Regions from separate parts of the Homo sapiens genome. Here region 1 is linked to region 2. The links come from fine-mapping of genetic effects on gene expression. Tissue or cell type: sun-exposed skin. Region 2 holds a variant in brackets; the other region holds the start of a gene. All regions are shown on one strand. Distances are from middle to middle.

Evidence for each region. PIP is the estimated chance that this variant, and not a neighbour inherited with it, causes the effect.
Region 1: it holds the start of CLEC4F, and the variant in region 2 is fine-mapped to the expression of CLEC4F in sun-exposed skin (GTEx, PIP above 0.99). The same link has a PIP of 0.9 or more in unexposed skin.

The regions. Positions count from the first base shown.
Region 1 is chr2:70,815,571-70,823,673 of GRCh38, forward strand. CLEC4F (C-type lectin domain family 4 member F) reads right to left here and starts at 5,029. Exons shown (of 7, transcript NM_173535.3): 1 at 4,893-5,029; 2 at 4,205-4,321; 3 at 3,785-3,874; 4 at 424-1,542. The coding sequence starts at 4,953.
Region 2 is chr2:70,933,017-70,941,117 of GRCh38, forward strand. VAX2 (ventral anterior homeobox 2) reads left to right here. Exons shown (of 3, transcript NM_012476.3): 3 at 1-430. The coding sequence ends at 188. ATP6V1B1 (ATPase H+ transporting V1 subunit B1) reads left to right here and starts at 2,884. Exons shown (of 14, transcript NM_001692.4): 1 at 2,884-3,056. The coding sequence starts at 2,939. RefSeq lists enhancers at 5,488-6,328, 6,329-7,168. The variant C/T (reference allele first, on the strand shown) is at 3,604.

The DNA.
Region 1 (8,103 bases), 120 kb before region 2:
ACATGTGTGAACTCATTGGATCCTCACTGTGATGCAAATATTATTGTCTCCCCCTTGCAGATGAGAAAAGTGTAGCTCAGAGAAGGTAAGTAACAGGCTCAAGGTCATACCATTTGGGGTATCAGGAAGTCAGAAATAAGGCTGTGTGGCCCACTAGCCCATGCCGTCCTTATCACACACGTGCACCATTTACAGTTGGTTTCCCGTGTTCATTTGGTCACCGTGACCAGGTTATAAGCAACTTGAGAGCAGGAACTTCCCACCTCACACCATCTCTACAACTGCCCAGTTTCCTTGGGCCCATTTCCCTGGATTTGGTCAAGGAGATGCATGTTGCAGTAAAAAAGAGGCTGATGAGATGGAAGACTCTACCCTCTCAAGAGACTGTGCCCTCCCCAAACGCGACTCCCCTCTCCCACTTACTTTGGGTTCTTTGTAGCTGTTCCTGTGAAGTAATGACCACATGGAGGGTCTTCAGGCGACTCTGCTCCTGCTGGATTTCCATGGTTAGAGCTTTGGTGTTCTCTAGATCCCCTCTTAACCTCTGGATCTCGGCACTGGCCTTCTGCAGATTGCTGTCTAACATCTGGGTCTGGGAAGTTAAGGCTGAAGCATTCTTCATTCCTTGTTTTAGGGTCTGTATCTCTCTGCTGGCATTTTTCATATGACCATTTAAGACCTGAATCTGGGCATTTAAGGTATTCACATTTTCCATCTCTGACTTGAATACCTGAATCTGAGTATCTGTCTGGTCCAGACGGCCATTTGCTTTTTGGGTCTGGGCTGTGACCATTTTCAAATCCCTTTTTAACACGTGAATTTCATCACCAGCTCTTTCCAAATGACCTCTTAAGAACTGGATCTCAGCACTAGTGTTGTCAAAACTGCTTTTTATAAAGGCCTGGGTCTGGGAGTTTAAAGCATTTGTGTTCTGCAAATTTTCCTTTAGTCCCTGGATCTCAGCATTGGCTCCTTCCAAACTATTTCTTAAAACCTGGTTCTGGGTCCTCAAGTCATTGACACTATCTAGATGGCCTCTCAAAACATAGATCTCAGCATTAGCGTTCTTTAAACTGCTATTGGCTAACTGAGCCTGGGTATTTGCCGTTTCCAAACTGGCATTCAACATCTGAATTTCAGAGTTTGCATTTTCTAAGCCTCTGCTTAGCACGTGGAGCTCAATGCTGGTGTTTTCTAAACTGCTTTTTAAGAAATTCAGCGTCTGGAAAGTTAAAGCATCTGCCTTTTCAAGGTCTTCCTTGAGCCTCTGGATCTCAGCATTGGTTCCCTCCAGGGAACTCCTTAACATCTGTGTCTGCAAACTCAATGTAGTGGCATCCTTTAGAACTCCTTTTACCATCTGGATGTCAGCATTGGTGTTTCCCAGATGATCACCGAGCACCTGGAGCTGCGAATTGACATTGTCCACTCTGCACTTCAACATCTGGATTTCTACTACCCAGGCACTGGAATTCTCCATGTGGCCTTTAAATGTCTGGATAAGCTCTCGCATTTCTGCCTCCCTGCCAAAGTGGTGATGATCTGGAGGGAGGAAGTGAAGAAGGCAGCCAAAGAGGCCCATTATGTAGGGTAGCATTTTATGGGCCACCCAGAGTGTTTCTAACATTTCCAAGGGAAATGGGTACTGCACAGCCCTCAGTGCTCCCCCAAGCACCCTCCTGGTCACACAGCCACCCAGACCCTGGGGACGGTCCACCTGAGAATGTGGGCCAAGAAACAAAGATCTAATTCACTGTTACACACAAATGAAGGGGTCAGAAGGATTGAAATGCTTGCCTGCTGTAAGCCAGCTGCCACCAGGAGTCATGCTGGTAAGGCTTGGATTATTTTGTCGTTATAATTGCTCAACTTGAAAGTAACTGATTTTATCATTTAGAGCTGTTGAAGTTTAATTTTACTGGAATTTCACCACAGATGGGTCATTATGGGAAAGAAAATAGGTATGAATAAAGCCTGTGGTTAGTCCTACATTATATTTGTACACCAAGCATAGAGCCTCTTGATTCACCATTGTTACTTGATAAAAACCACCACAAACATAAGTTTTATGATGGCAAATTCCATGGAGAAGAAAACACAAAGGAAAGAAACAGAAACAAAACAAAATAGGTGTGCTGGGAGGAAGTACCCTGTTCAATCAACAGGGCTATGATAGAGGCATGCCATGCCCTCCAGGTAACTAACACTGGACCTCAGCTGAGATGGCCTTTTAAAGAGCCAGCACCCCCAGTGTTACATAGGGCAAGGGTCCCTACAGAACAGTTTGAGGATACAGGAAACCTGAGTAAAAGGCCTTGCGCTGGGGTCGTTGAAGGAGACCCCACAGCCCCTTTAATCTGCAAGGTCTTTCCCACCAACCTCACATGCATCTACCTCTGGTCCTGCTAGCATCCTTTGTTCACCTCATGAACTAGGACCTAATCTCACACATCCATGATCCCCTTCTGATTCCAGTCTCCCCTCAGGAATAGGGAGAAAAACCCAAGATGGCAGGGACCCTTTCTGGAGCATCCATGTACTATTTCTCATGCACTGCCTATGTAGATGTGTGAGACCTCAGTTACTGTGCTAAGGTAAGAGAGGGGACCTTTCAAGGTACTGGGAGTTCAGTCAAAGATTCTGCTTTGTAAAGATAGACAAACAAATCAATGCGACAGAATGGAGAATACGGAAGTAGACCCCCACACATATGGACAATCGAATTTCAACAAAGGTGCAAAGGCAATTCACGGAGAAAGATAACTTTTTCAACAAATGGTGCTGGAACAATCAATTTCACACCATTATACAATAATTAACTCAAATGAGGCAGAGACCTAAATGTAAAACTAAAAACCGGGCTGGGCATGGTGGCTCACGCCTGTAATCCCAGCACTTTGGGAGGCTGAGGTGGGCAGATCACGAGGTCAGGGGATCGAGACCATCCTGGCTAACACGGTGAAACTCCGTCTCTACTAAAAATACAAAAAATTAGCCAGGCGTGGTGGCGGGCGCCTGTAGTCCTAGCTACTCCAGAGGCTGAGGCAGGAGAATGGCATGAACCTGGGAGGCAGAGCTTGCAGTGAGCCGAGATCACGCCACTGCACTCCAGCCTGGGTGACAGAGCGAGACTCCGTCAAAAAACAAAAACAAAAACTAAAACTAAAAACTGTACAATTTCCAGAAACAAAGGAGAACATCTTTGTAGCCTTGGATTAGGCAGATTTCTCACATACGAGATCATGAGAATAATCCATAACAGAAATAAAATGATAAATTAGACTATCAAAATTAAAATCTTGTTAGGAGAATGACAAGACAAGTCACAGACTGAGAGAAAAATATTTGCAAATCACATGACTAGCAAAGAACAAAGAGTACATACTCTATGATCTCTTATCTATAAAACTCTAGAAAAAGCAAACTAATCTATAGTTACAGCAAGTAGATCTGTGGCTGCCCAGGGATGAGGAGAGGAAGGGAGAGGAAGGAATTACAAAGAGCCACAAGGAAACTTTGGGGTGAGGAGGATGACTATGTGATGATGATTGTGGTGATGGTTTCAGGGGCACACACATATGTCAAAACTTAACAGATTGTATGCTTTAAATATATACACCATTAGACCTCAATAAAACTGTGTTTTTAAAAAATTATCTCTTTCTGTGAGGATGGTGGAGCCCATTCAGTGGTCAGAGGGTACCAGGAGAGAAGCTCATCCTAGGGTCTGAGCATCTGAAGGCCCCAGTTCCCTCTGCACCCCACCCCCACTGTGGCTACTCACTGTTGGGTTCAAAAGGTAAATGCCCAGTAATGTTGTCTCCCAGAATTACGGCTTGCACAGGCTTCGGAACAGGTCTTGTCTGCTGTTGAACTGAGACATTCCATTTTTCCAGGTCAGCAAATCCCCAGCCCTGAGCCTGGGAGGATACGCTGTCCCACACAGAGGTAGAGTTCCAGAACCGGGGAGATAGCAGCAAAGACCCTCCCAGGGTTTCCCTCATGAACCTCAGTTCTTGGGAGGCTCCCCCTTGGACAGTGGCCTTTATCTGTTCCCAGGGAAGCTGTGGCTTGGGCCTGGAGCTGGAGGTGGAATGATCTTTCTGGGAGCAGAGAGGCCCAGAGAGTGTGCATCTGGGGCCCCTGGGGACTTTGTGCTGAAAGGAGAGAAAGTTAGTGAGATTTGGGTCACCTGGGGGCTTACCCACTACAAAGAGAGTCACAAGAGAGAAGACCAAGGTCACAGCCATAAATGCCGGGGTAGCCTGAACGAGCCTCGGTATCTTGGGGGCTGCAGGAGCCATTGCCACAGAGTCCACCTCTGCAGGGGAGAAGGCAGTGTCCAAGGTGAGAGGGTGCTGTGCAAGGTAAGAGGGTGCTGTGCAGGCTGAGACACAGCCTCTCTGATTCTGTTTCCTGGGTTGTCTAATGGGGATGATAACTCCTGCCATGCTTATCATGCAGGTGGTTATGGAGAAGGAAGACAAAACACTTTGGGCTGTTCACCAGAGCTAGATGTGGATATGGTAGCAACACAGAGCTGAGGAGCTCTGAGACCGAGACCACCGATCTCCAAATCTCAAGGAGGCTTTGGTGGTGCACAGGGCACAGAACCTGGCACAGAGCACAGAGCAACAAAAGTGTAGTTTGAATGAAAGAAGAAAGGAAGGGAGGGAGGCCTCACAGGACCAGCTCAGTGTGCAGAGCCGGGATTCCAAGCCAGGACCATCTGAATTCAAAGTTCATCCCCTTTCTCTTGCCAGGTCTGCATCCCCAAGGACAAGGGTCTGGGGAGAGCAATAAGACAGCAATAAGCTGCCTTATGGCAGAGGGCCAAAGGACAGGCAGGCTACTCCCTCACTGGGCAAGAGCTGGGGCCCCAGTTTTCTCACCTTGGGGGTGCAGGGAGACACACTGGTTATCTGTGCAGAAGCGGACTGCCTCACCGTCCATCTCTGCTTCCTTGATCCTCCAGCACTGCTCCCAGCCACTGGCTCCTGGAAGGGCCGTCCCGTGGACCAATGGCAGTGGAAGCAAAGCTGAGACACCCACACTTATATGCTCCTGACCACCCTCCCAGCTCTTCCTCCCTCCCTGCCTGACTCTGCAGAAACCCGCCCCAGTGGGCCCCTCCCCTAGAGGCTCCCAGATACCCATCTGCCCTATTTTCTTCCTCTTCCCATTAGCACCTTCCCGTCAGTTCTCAGCCCCATCATCCCAGCCTCTGCCGCATCCAGCATAACCCCAAACACACCTCTTCTTCTCTGGGGGCTGGGACTGGCACCTAGGAAGGGGGTCTCAGCTTTGCACAGAAAACATCCTTATGACTATGGCTGACCTTTAATTCTAGCCTCAGAACCTCTTAAGTAAAAGGAGTCAGGTAAAAGAGGGGCCAGGTCAGTGCGGCCGATATTTGCAGGTCAAAGGAGGAAGCGGGGTGACCAGCCACTTGGGGACTCACAACTGAATTATAGTATACAGGAGGATGTGCGGAGGTTATATAAAAATACTACATGATTTTGTACAAGGGACTTGAGCATCTGTGGACTTTGGTACCCATGGGAGTCCTGAAACAAATCCCCTGCAGATACCAAGGGACAACTCTGTAAAAAATATATCTGGTCTTCATCTCAGTTCCTGACACAGAACTCCTAAAACGCTTAGAGTTTCCTGGGTGACAGGAGTGTTTTTTGTTATTCATAATAAGCCCCTTAGGACTACACTTGGGTTTATGCTAATGAGGTGACACAGGGTGGACCCTTAGATAATTTCAGGCTGGAGGCTGGTCCCAGAAAGACCAAACATGGGATTAGACTTTGGAAGACTGGGACTTTCAGCCACCCACTCCCATTCCCTACTCCCAGACCTCCAGGTATGGGAGATGGCCTGGGGTCTGGGCTATAACGACTCTTAAAAAATGAGATTCAAGGAGCTTAGGGATTGGTGATCCACATGCCAGGAGGGTGTCATGCCCTGACTCCACAGAGACAGAGTCTCCTGCACTTGGGACCCCACTGGGCCTTGCCCTGTGTACCTCTTCATCAGGCTGTTTTTGTCCTTTACAATAAAAGAATAGGAAGTACAGTGTTTTTCTGAGTTCTGTGAATTGTTCTAGTGAATTATGAAAACTGAGAGGTTGTTGCAGAAACCCCCTAATTTTTTGTTTGAGACAGGGTCTCCCTCTGTCACTCAGGCTGGAGTGCAGTGGTACGATCATAAGTCAATGCAGCCTTGAACTCCTGGACACAAGTGATCCTCAGTTCTCAGCCCCAACATCCCAGCCTCTGTCACATCCAGCATAACCCCAGCATAACTGGGACTACAGGTGTGTGCCAACATACCTGGCTAATTTTTTATTTTTATTTTTTTGTAGAGATGGGATCTCTTTTTATACCCCAGGCTGGTCTGGAACTCCTGGCTTCAAGTGATCCTCCCACCTCAGCCTCCCAAAGTGCTGGGACTACAGGCATGAGCCACCTTGCCTAGCCAGAACCCCCAAATTTGTAGTTGACCAGGCAGAAGTGGGGTCACTACCTCACTTGTAGCTAGCATCTGAAGGGGGGCAGTCTTGTGGGACTGAGGCCTTACCCTGTGAGATCTGTGCTAACTCTGGAAGTTAGTGTTAGAATCTGTTTGAATTGTTGGATGCCCAGCGGGTGTCAGAGAATCGGCTGGTGTCAGGAAAAAGCACACATTTGGTGTCAGAAGTGGTGTCAGAAAATACCAAGCAGGCCCCAACTTTAGCTGATTGGATCCATGCCTCCTGAGGTGACCAGGTTCTCAAGACTAACTCCAAAGAATCTGATGGAGCAGGCTGGGGCCAATGTGTGGCTTTCAATGAGCCCTATCCCTTCCAGGAGGAACAGATACTGCTTCAGGGGTTCCTGCTGCTGGGTGGGCCTAGCATTAGAAGAGAAGGCATGAGGCATCCCAGTGGACAGTGCCATGGAGCTGTGCAAACGTGATGTCCCTGTCCCTGCCACAGGGGTTACCAGCTGAACAGAACCAATATTCCCATGGCTGGTCAAGGAACCCCTCTAAAAGCCAGTGCTGGGGTTACCAGCAGATTCCTGTTCTTTGGTTCCTTCTTGTCTCCATTACTTCAAACGGTCACAATCTTTTTGAAATAAATCACATTTTCTTTCACTTTGGAAAGTCTAATTACATATTACACCATCATAGCAACTCTTAAACAAACTCACAACCTTGCAAATGGCTTGTTCCATCCATGTTGTGTTGTTTCTTTGCTACTTTCACCCTCTGTTCCTATGTCCCATTCTCATGTCTTTTGCACAGATCCTGGGGTCAGCCTCTTATAGGTCCCCAGCTGCCAACTAACAACACTGCAGACCAACCACAAAGGTGGAGAAGCCACACGGAACGTGCCTCCTCTGAGGCCGGGCCAGGAGAACAGCTTTGGCCCAGGAGGAGCCTGTGCCATGCGTGGCTGATGTCAACCCGGCAAGCAAGTCGCCCCGTGGGTAGGGGATCTGCAGACAGGAAGGGAGCGGTTGCCCACACCCAGTTCATGATGGTGGGGGTGTGTGTGTTTGTGTGTGTGTGTGTGTGTGTTGAACTGTGCAGTGTTAGGGGCCCAATGTGTAGAGTGCAGAGCCACCATTTGCTGCCTTTTACCTCCTGTTTGTTGAAAACTGACCTTAGAGAGGAGGGCACAGCAGGAATGAAGGGTGAAGGCACCTATTTCTGGACTATCAACAGCGCTGCCTGAGATCCCAGTGGTGTCTGCCAGACTCCTTCACCGCCACATAGAATGGGATGGAAGCTGCTGGAGGTGCCTCCCTAGAGGCCCATCAGACACCCAGGGCTGGTGGCTGAAAAGAAAGGGCTTGTCTTGGTTTCTGTTTCCCCATACACAGGAAGGGCCCAGGCTGGACCTACTCAGGACCTATTTCCTCCTGAGGCCTGAGAGCTGAGGGAACCTCGAAGGCAGAACTCTACGGATCCCTTGCCCAACTGGAAGGTCAGAGTCTGGGCCAGGAGAGGGGCATAGTTCTTCCCTGGCCTCCCCACCCACCCTCCGGGCCCTAGCTCTTCTATTTCCCACAGGAACACCATCTACCAGCAGGGCAGAAAAACCAGGGG
Region 2 (8,101 bases):
TCAACCCGCTGTCCTCGGCCTCAGCGTCCCCCCCACTGCCGCCCCCTCTGCCAGCTGTCTGCTTTTCCTCGGCCCCGCTCCTGGATCTGCCTGCCGGCTACGAACTGGGTTCCTCGGCCTTCGAGCCATACAGCTGGCTAGAACGGAAAGTGGGCAGCGCCAGCAGCTGCAAGAAAGCTAACACTTAAGACTCCCACCCTGTGACACTGAGTCCCGAGCACAGCACCTTCCCAGTCTCCTGTGCCCCAGCGGACAGCACTGAGCAGGCCCCGGAGAGGAGGGGCTGCAGCCACACACTCTTCCCCACCTGCCCCCCAGCTCAGAGACTCGTGACCAAATGGCCTTGGTCCCGCAGCTTGTGTGCGTGAGTGCAGTGTGAGTGTGTGTGTCTCTCACTGAAATAAAAGGAAAACAATGACAAGAAGGGAAATGGTGCCCACAGCACAACTACTTACCCCTCAATCCCTTCTATCCCTCTTGTCACTGGAAGGGAAAATGGGCTTAGAGTCAGAGGGACCTCAGATGGGAGAGGGCAGAAACTGGGATTCTGGGGGTCAGGGGACTCACATGTGTCGGTCAGCAGGCACCTGATTCCCACTCAATAGAAGCCCATGGCACCAACACGAATTCTTTGGTTAAATGTTGCCCTTTACAAGCTCTCTTTCAAACATAAAAATACTTGAGAGAGGGAAACATTGTCACCTTGAAGAGGGTGAATGGTGAAAGGGGAGACCAGGTTGAGAGAGAGGGAGAGAGAGCATCAAAGCTAAACACAAGCAAGAGTCCAGATGTTTAGAGACGGCCTACCCATCACAAACTGCAACATGAAACCCTTTAAAATATCTATACACAGCCTGGCCAACATGGGGAAACTCCATCTCTACTCAAAATACAAAAATTAGCTGGGCATGGTGGCGGGCGCCTGTAATCTCAGCCACTCAGGAGGCTGAAGCAGGAGAATCGCTTGAACCCAGGAGGTGGAGGCTGCAGTGAGCCAAGATCATGCCTCTGCATTTCAGCCTGACAACAGAGGGAGACTCTGACTCAAAAAAAAAAAAAAATATATATATATATATACACACACACACACACACACACACACATACATATTATATATATTTCATATTGCTCAAACAATATAAATTTTTTTAAAGTTAAATAAGAGTCTTGCTCAAGACTCTTTTATTTAACTTTTTATTTTGCAGTAATTATAGATTTACAGGAAGCTGCAGAGATAGGACAGAGAAGTTCCTTCCATTGGCAGGAACTCAATAGTATGAGACAGATAGGCTTCATCTTCCCTAACTATAGTACAATATCAAAACTAGGAAATTGGCATTGGTACCGTGTGTGTGCATAGTGCCATGTCATTTTATAGATTCATGGACTCACTGCTGCAATCCAGATGCAGACCTGTTCCATCACCACAGAGATCTTCCTCATGCTGCTCCTTGATGGTCACACCCACCCCCGCCCTCCACAGGAGAGTTCTTTGAAAGGATGGGCATTAGGAACCAGAGACCTGAAATGGGTCCTCAGGAGGGAGGATGCGGGGTAAGATTTTGACTCTGTGAAGAGAAATAACAAGCACAGTCTCCTCCAGTCTGCTCTGAGAAACATAGTAGCTGCTGCTTTGGTTTCAAATTGGCTGTCCTGAGTCACCTGGAGTGGGTGCTTGGGGACAGTGATCCCTAGGCAAATGTACTTCTGCCGTTCCCTCTGCTCAGTGGTATGGTTTGGGGAGGAGCTTAGAAATGCAGAAATCCTGAGCCTAGAATGAGGCATGGGGGTGACTAGAAGACCTTGGGTTGGGCAGGTCCAGCTACCACCCAGGGTCCACCCTGCCTTGCCCAGAGGAACTGTACCACACTCCACTCACCAGGAGAAACCACAACTCTTAGTTTCATGACATGAAGAGAGAGTTCTTGGGAAGCAGTGGTGAGGTCTTGGGTGGAACCCAGGCCAGGCTGTGCACATAGTTTGATTTATAACTCCAGGTATTTAGTTATACAATACAGGGACCTCCATTTTACTTTCTGACCTGGGCTGGAAAGGTCAGGGCAGGCCTGCTGTATAGAAATCTGGAGGTGAATGTGAGAAGATGAGACACGGTTCTATGATCAGATGGAGAGAGACCAGCCCTCATTCTCAAGAACTCTCAATAGTATGAGACAGACAGGCTTCAGGAGACCCAGGTCTGTGGGTTGAGACACAGGCTCAGCTTTTGGGGGCTCACAGCCCAGTGGCAGGGACAAGAGAGGCCTCTCCTAAAGGGCATGACTTAGGAAAGAGGCTAGATGTGTAGTAAATCTTGGCTGCTAGAGAATCCAGAGAAGGCTTCATGTAGGAGATGGCACTGAGGCTGACCAGGAAATAATTCTCTACAGATGTTCAAAAAGATGACGATGGAATTGTCAGGGGGCAGAAGTATCCAGGTATAGTCAGGGCAAGGAGTGCAGGGTAAGGTCAGGTTGCGAGAACAGTGAAGAAAGGGCAGCCTGCCAGAAGTTGGGTGTGGAGAGACCAGAAAGAGCTGTGGTGAGGGACGAGTGTGGGAATGTTGACAGCACCTGATGGTCCAGGGGAGGAATTGAATTCATACAGTTTGGGGTTGGCGGGGAGGAACCGCCTAGCACAGAAGAAGGAAAAAGCCAGCCCTCCCCTCTTCCCTTCTCCCTCCACATCCTCCAGCTCTCAGGTGACGGGGGCCCCTCCCAGACCTGCACAGCTTGGTGTGGGGAAAGCTTGGGAGCCAGAGCCCCAGGCTTCCTTGTTTACTGTCAACCTAGAGGAGGAGGAGAGGGAGGGGAGGGGGAGAGGGGAGGGGTGGCTGCAGGGGAAGGCTGAGCAGCTCTCTCCAGCTCCAGCTGGACCTGAAGTCTCAGAGCTGCCACCAGCAGCAGGCTCAGACACTGGGCTCCCAGCTGGGGACTGCTCCATGGCCATGGAGATAGACAGCAGGCCTGGGGGGCTCCCCGGCAGTAGCTGCAACCTAGGTGCAGCCCGAGAACACATGCAGGCGGTCACCCGAAACTACATCACCCACCCCCGTGTCAGTGAGTAGCCCCTCCACCGTGACGGGTGAGGTCAGGGTGGGGAGCTGGGGTGGGCTGCCAGGTTCCCGGGCCCCGCTTCTTGCCTCAGAAAAGGAGGAGGACCCAAGACCTGGGGAGACCTGGAGGGCTCTCTGTCCAGCAGAGTGACGCAGTGGGGCCACCTGGACCAGAGGCCACCTCTGCAGGTGAAGGGTTGCAGGTCCCCAGCCCAGCCCACCCCAGAAGAGAGGGCTGGGGAGTAGCTGTCATCAGCCCAATCCTGCTGTAACACCCGAAGTCCAGAGATAGCTTCCAGTTGCCCCTGAGAGTGGGGTGTGCTGTGCACCTGCTCTTGTGTAAACGTGCCTGTGTGAGGAGTGTGCACCCAAGCACTCAGAGTCAGGCGGGGTGTGATTAAGTGTACTTGGAGTGGTGTGTGTGGCAGTGCAGAGTGTCAGCGCTCTCAGCCTGAGGAAATAGGTGCCCCGTGTGCGTCACATCAATGGGTGCATGTCGTATGTGTGTTCTGAGGAGGGTGCCTGTGTGCATAAGCAGGTAGGAGCATGTG[C/T]CTAGGGGGTGCTCCCACCTTCACTTGGGGTAAGGAAATGTGTGACTGCATGCTTATGCACTCAGGGCAAAGGTGTGTGTGTGTGCACTTAGGTGTGATGTACGTGTGTGCATGTGCACTCATGGAGAGAACACTTGTGTATGTGTTCTGGCAGTGTCACATATCTGAGTATGGTGAGTGTGTGTACAGCTGGGATAAGAATGCGTATCCAGGTGTGGGGCATGGAAGTGTCTACAGGTGCTGGGATGTACCCTTGTCAATTTCAGAGGGGAGGCCCTACTTGTGGCTCCTGTGCCTGTCCTGCAAGGGTGGCCCAGATGTCTGGGGCAAGGTCCAGAGGACCAAAGGGAACCCCTGCATCTCCTTGTCCAAGGTCACTCTCCCTGGCCTGGTGAATTCTCAGGCCGCCCTGCTCACTGGAGTAAACCAGCATGGCCCGCCACAGCTATGCAAAGCCAGAGGCTCACTGGAGTAAACCAGCATGGCCCGCCACAGCTATGCAGAGCCAGAGGCTCACTGGAGTAAACCAGCATGGCCCGCCACAGCTATGCAGAGCCAGAGGCTCCTAACAGGGAGTGTGGTGTGAGGGGAAGTGAGCCTGATGCAGCCACCCCACCTCCCTCTGTTCCTCTGTTGCTATCCAGGCCAGGAGAGGAGGTGGAGTGAACTCAGAGGGTAGCTGAGGGGTGAAATCAGAGTAAAGGGGCCCGGGGGCGCATGGGAGGAGAGCCCTGGGGTGTGGGGCACCTCCTGAGGCCTGAGGCAGGTGCTGAGGGTGGAGCACATTCCAGCTAAGAAGAAATGGTGAGAATGGGGTGGGTCAGATTTCTCAAGCAAGGCCTGTAGGCCCTGCCCCATGGAGCTCGGGGGAGGATAGGAGGTCCGGATACTCCCTAGGCCAAAGCTAGGGTCACCAAGGCCCAGAAATATGCAGTGACTGGGCCCCCTTGGGTCCAGAGCCCAGGCCTGGAGCCCTGAGCTGGCATGTGTGACTCTTGCCAGTCTGTTGTGATGAGCCCCACTCCCTGCAGGCCGTCCCTCCTCCCTGCAGGCACCCGGGAGTTGCTGGGTGCTGAGTGTGGTGTGTGATCTGCACCTTCATGCTCTGCTTTCCTTCTTCCTGGAAAGTGCCCCCACCTCCTGATACCCAGGGACCCTATAGGTACCATCTAACCCCACACTCCTCTGGGCAGGTTGGCCCAAGCCTGGAGCCACCTCCAGCCAGCTCTTTCCCACCCAGCCCCTTATGTATAGTCAACATGCCCTGGAGGTTCTGACCCAGGCTGGAACCCAGGGATGGCTGTGCCCGCCCCCCATGTTTGCATGCTTCCCTCGATGCTGGCTCTATATGGCCTCCACCCAGGAGAATGTGTTCACACCAAACAACCCAACAGTGGACCCAGAGCAAAGGTCAGTGCAGGGGAGCCCCTCTAGGCTCTGCTCCCTGCCAGCGCCTTTACTTTTGCTGCCTATCAAGTATCCTCACAGGATGCACCGGGCCAGCCTCAGCCCAGCCCAGATGCCCTCCCACCCCCAGGGGAAGGCTGGGATTCCTTGGTGTGTCCCTTCATCCACAGTGTCTCCCAATCCCCTCCCCGCCTCACTCACTTCCTCCTCAGGCTCTGGGAGTGGGAGGGATGAGGGGGGTGGTTCTCCCTGGGGCCTGTGGACAGGCGCAGGGCTGGCAAGGGTTTGGAAATTTAGGGCTGCACCCTCAGTACGCCAGAGGCAGGGCCACTCTGTCCCTCTCCACCTGTCTCCTCCCCAGCCTGGCCTCCTACCCTGGGTCTGTAAGCACTCCCAGACAGGAGAACTCTGGGAGAAAAGCTGGGGGTGCCTAAGGGCAGGGAGGCCCCAGTGCTCGCTGGGCCACGGTGGAGGTGAGTCCAGGTGACTTAGGCATTCCCCTCCCCCGGGGGAGGTGGGCTAAAGAGGCCTGAGACTTTAAGGCTGATTTCACTGCAGTGGCTGAGAGAGGATTGGCTAGAAAGGAGGAGACACTAGAAAGAGTGGAGGCAGCCTGGGGAGCTGACCCTGCCAACATCTACCTTGGGAAAGAAGGGTCCCCTGTGCCTCCCGTGGAGCTAGAATGGTTCCCCAAGGGCCTTGGCTCCCGGCTGGGGAGGAGGTATCCTGGAGCTTCATCTGTTTGGGCAGAAGATGTTGGGCTTGGAGGGTGGAGGTGCCCAGCAGGAGCAAAGGTCAGGAAGGACAAGCTGGCAGCCTGGTTGGAGGGATGAAGCCAGGTCAGATCCCTGAAGATCCCCCAGGAGCTTGAGTGCCAAACCACTGTCTTTGCCTCCCCACCTCGGTTTCCTCAACTGGAAGGGGAAGGAGTTACACGGAGAGAGTCCCAACAAGCAGGGTCTTGGGCTGAAGAGCCCTCAGCTTCCAGCCCCTGCCCTCCCTCCTCTAATCCCTCCAGCGGGATCAGGGAGGAGGTGCGGGACCTGCTGCCCCGGGCTTGCCCCCATCCCGGCCTCACGCATGGGCGCCTGTCTCAGCCCTCTCCCAGGACGCTGCAGGTGTGGCTGGGCCAGCGCTAATTAGTGGGCCGCGCGGGGGCCCCGCTGAGCCTTTGACAGAAAAGGCGGTAGGGAGGTGGGGGCAGGGAGGCGCTCCACCAGCCAGAAGTCCGGAGCGCAACCCAAAGTGTCAGCTAAGACAATGGAGAGGGGGTGGGCCGGGCAGCTGGAGGGAGTGTCTGCAAAGTCTCTGGAAGGCCCATGGAAGGAGCGCCCTTTGGGTCTTCTGATCCAGCCCTCTGCCTGTGGCAATGCACCCGCTTCCCTCTCCAGGGTCAAGGCGAACATCCCAGGGTTGCAGAGTGGGCCATAATCGCTGAGCGCTGCAGGATACCGTCTTGAACTGTGGTGCGTCCTGCCAGAAACTAGCCCACTTTCTGGGCCTCGTTTTGCCACTCCATGCAAGGGACACACGGAGGTAGGGGCGGCAGTGTACAAACAAAAGGACCGGCTTGCAGTCAAGGACACCTCTGTTGCTCAGCCCCCATTTTGGCTGTGTCCAAACCAAACAGCCTAGAAGAAAAGATCAGGCTGGCTTAACAGGGGAGAGGCAGAGCTCTAAGACATCTGACGGGAGAGACATCCCTCTAGGGTCCCAGTCTGTAGTACCGTGGGACAGCAGTGGGGAGAGGACCCAGTGGGCTGCAGTAGTCAGTCAAGGGCAAGGCCTTGAAGGATGGGCATAGTCCAATGCTGAACAGAAACAGCCGCCTAAGTGGATTATCTGCAATGATGGGTCCAGGCCATGAAGCGATGTGTTCACCCAGAGCCAGGCCTGGAGGCTGCGAGAAGCCCAGGAAGGCAACTCACAGCTGAGGCTGATGTGCTAAGATGTTGAGCTTCGATATCTCACCCCGGTCACCCGAGCGGCCTGGCCGGGGAAGGCATCTGACTCCCAGAGGACCTGCAGCAAGCACTTTGCAGCTGCCTCTAGGCCCCTTCCAGCCCAGCCCTTCCTCCTGAGGGAAGGGCTGTGTGGATCCCCTAATCCTCTGTCCCCCACTCTGCTGCTGCCCCCACTCCCAGGTGGAGTTGCTGGATGTCAGGGCTAATGGGGATTCTACATGACAGGGGCTGTGAAGTGGGGGAGCAGCTGTGAAGGAAGGGAGGAAGTTGAAAGACTTGTCTCCTGAGGCAGTGGAATTAGAAATGATTCCCTGGACTTTTCTGGTCCTTGGGCCCCATCCCCTCCCACACCCCCACCTCCCTATCCAGCCCACCCACCCTGCATCTTTACATCACTGCTTTCTTCCCCCAGCGCAGCCCTTTGGCAGGTGTGGCATGCAAGATGCCAGCTCTCCCGGGGGCTTATAAAAATGAGGGTCTCTCCTGCCTGCCCTGCATCCCTTTGCTTGCACAATCCACTAGCAATCCAGACAATCTGATCCAAACACCATGTGGGTGTGGGAGTGCTGTGGCTGTTTGGAGTTTTTTTTAATTGATGGGAAGGGTAATGCCCAAGCCTCTGTCTCCTACCCTTTCTCGTTGAGGAGTCTTCCTATGCCCAACAGCCCCTTAGCCCAGTACATCCTCTTTCTCTTCTACTCTCTGCCTTCTCAGGAAGTATGGCTGGTGCTAGGGGTGCAACCCTTTAGGCTGGTCAATGGGACTCTCATTTGGTTTGGAGGCTTGGGAAGGTCGGGAGGGGGCACACAATGGTTCTGATGTGGGAAGTATGAGAAGGAGCAGATGGGGTCAGTTAACACCTTTCATAATCCATCCACAAAGATTTCTTTTTCTTCTTTTTTTCTTTTTTCTTTTTCTTTTTCTTTTTTTTTTTTTTTTTTGAGACAGGATCTTACTCTGTCACCCAGGCTGGAGTGCAATAATAGCATGATCAGAGCTCACCGCAGCCTCAACCTCCCTGGGCTCAGGTGATCCTCCCACCTCAGCCTCCTGAGAGCTGGGACCACAGGCACGTTCCACCATGCCCAGCTAATTTTTAAATTTTTCTGTAGAGACGAGGCTTCACC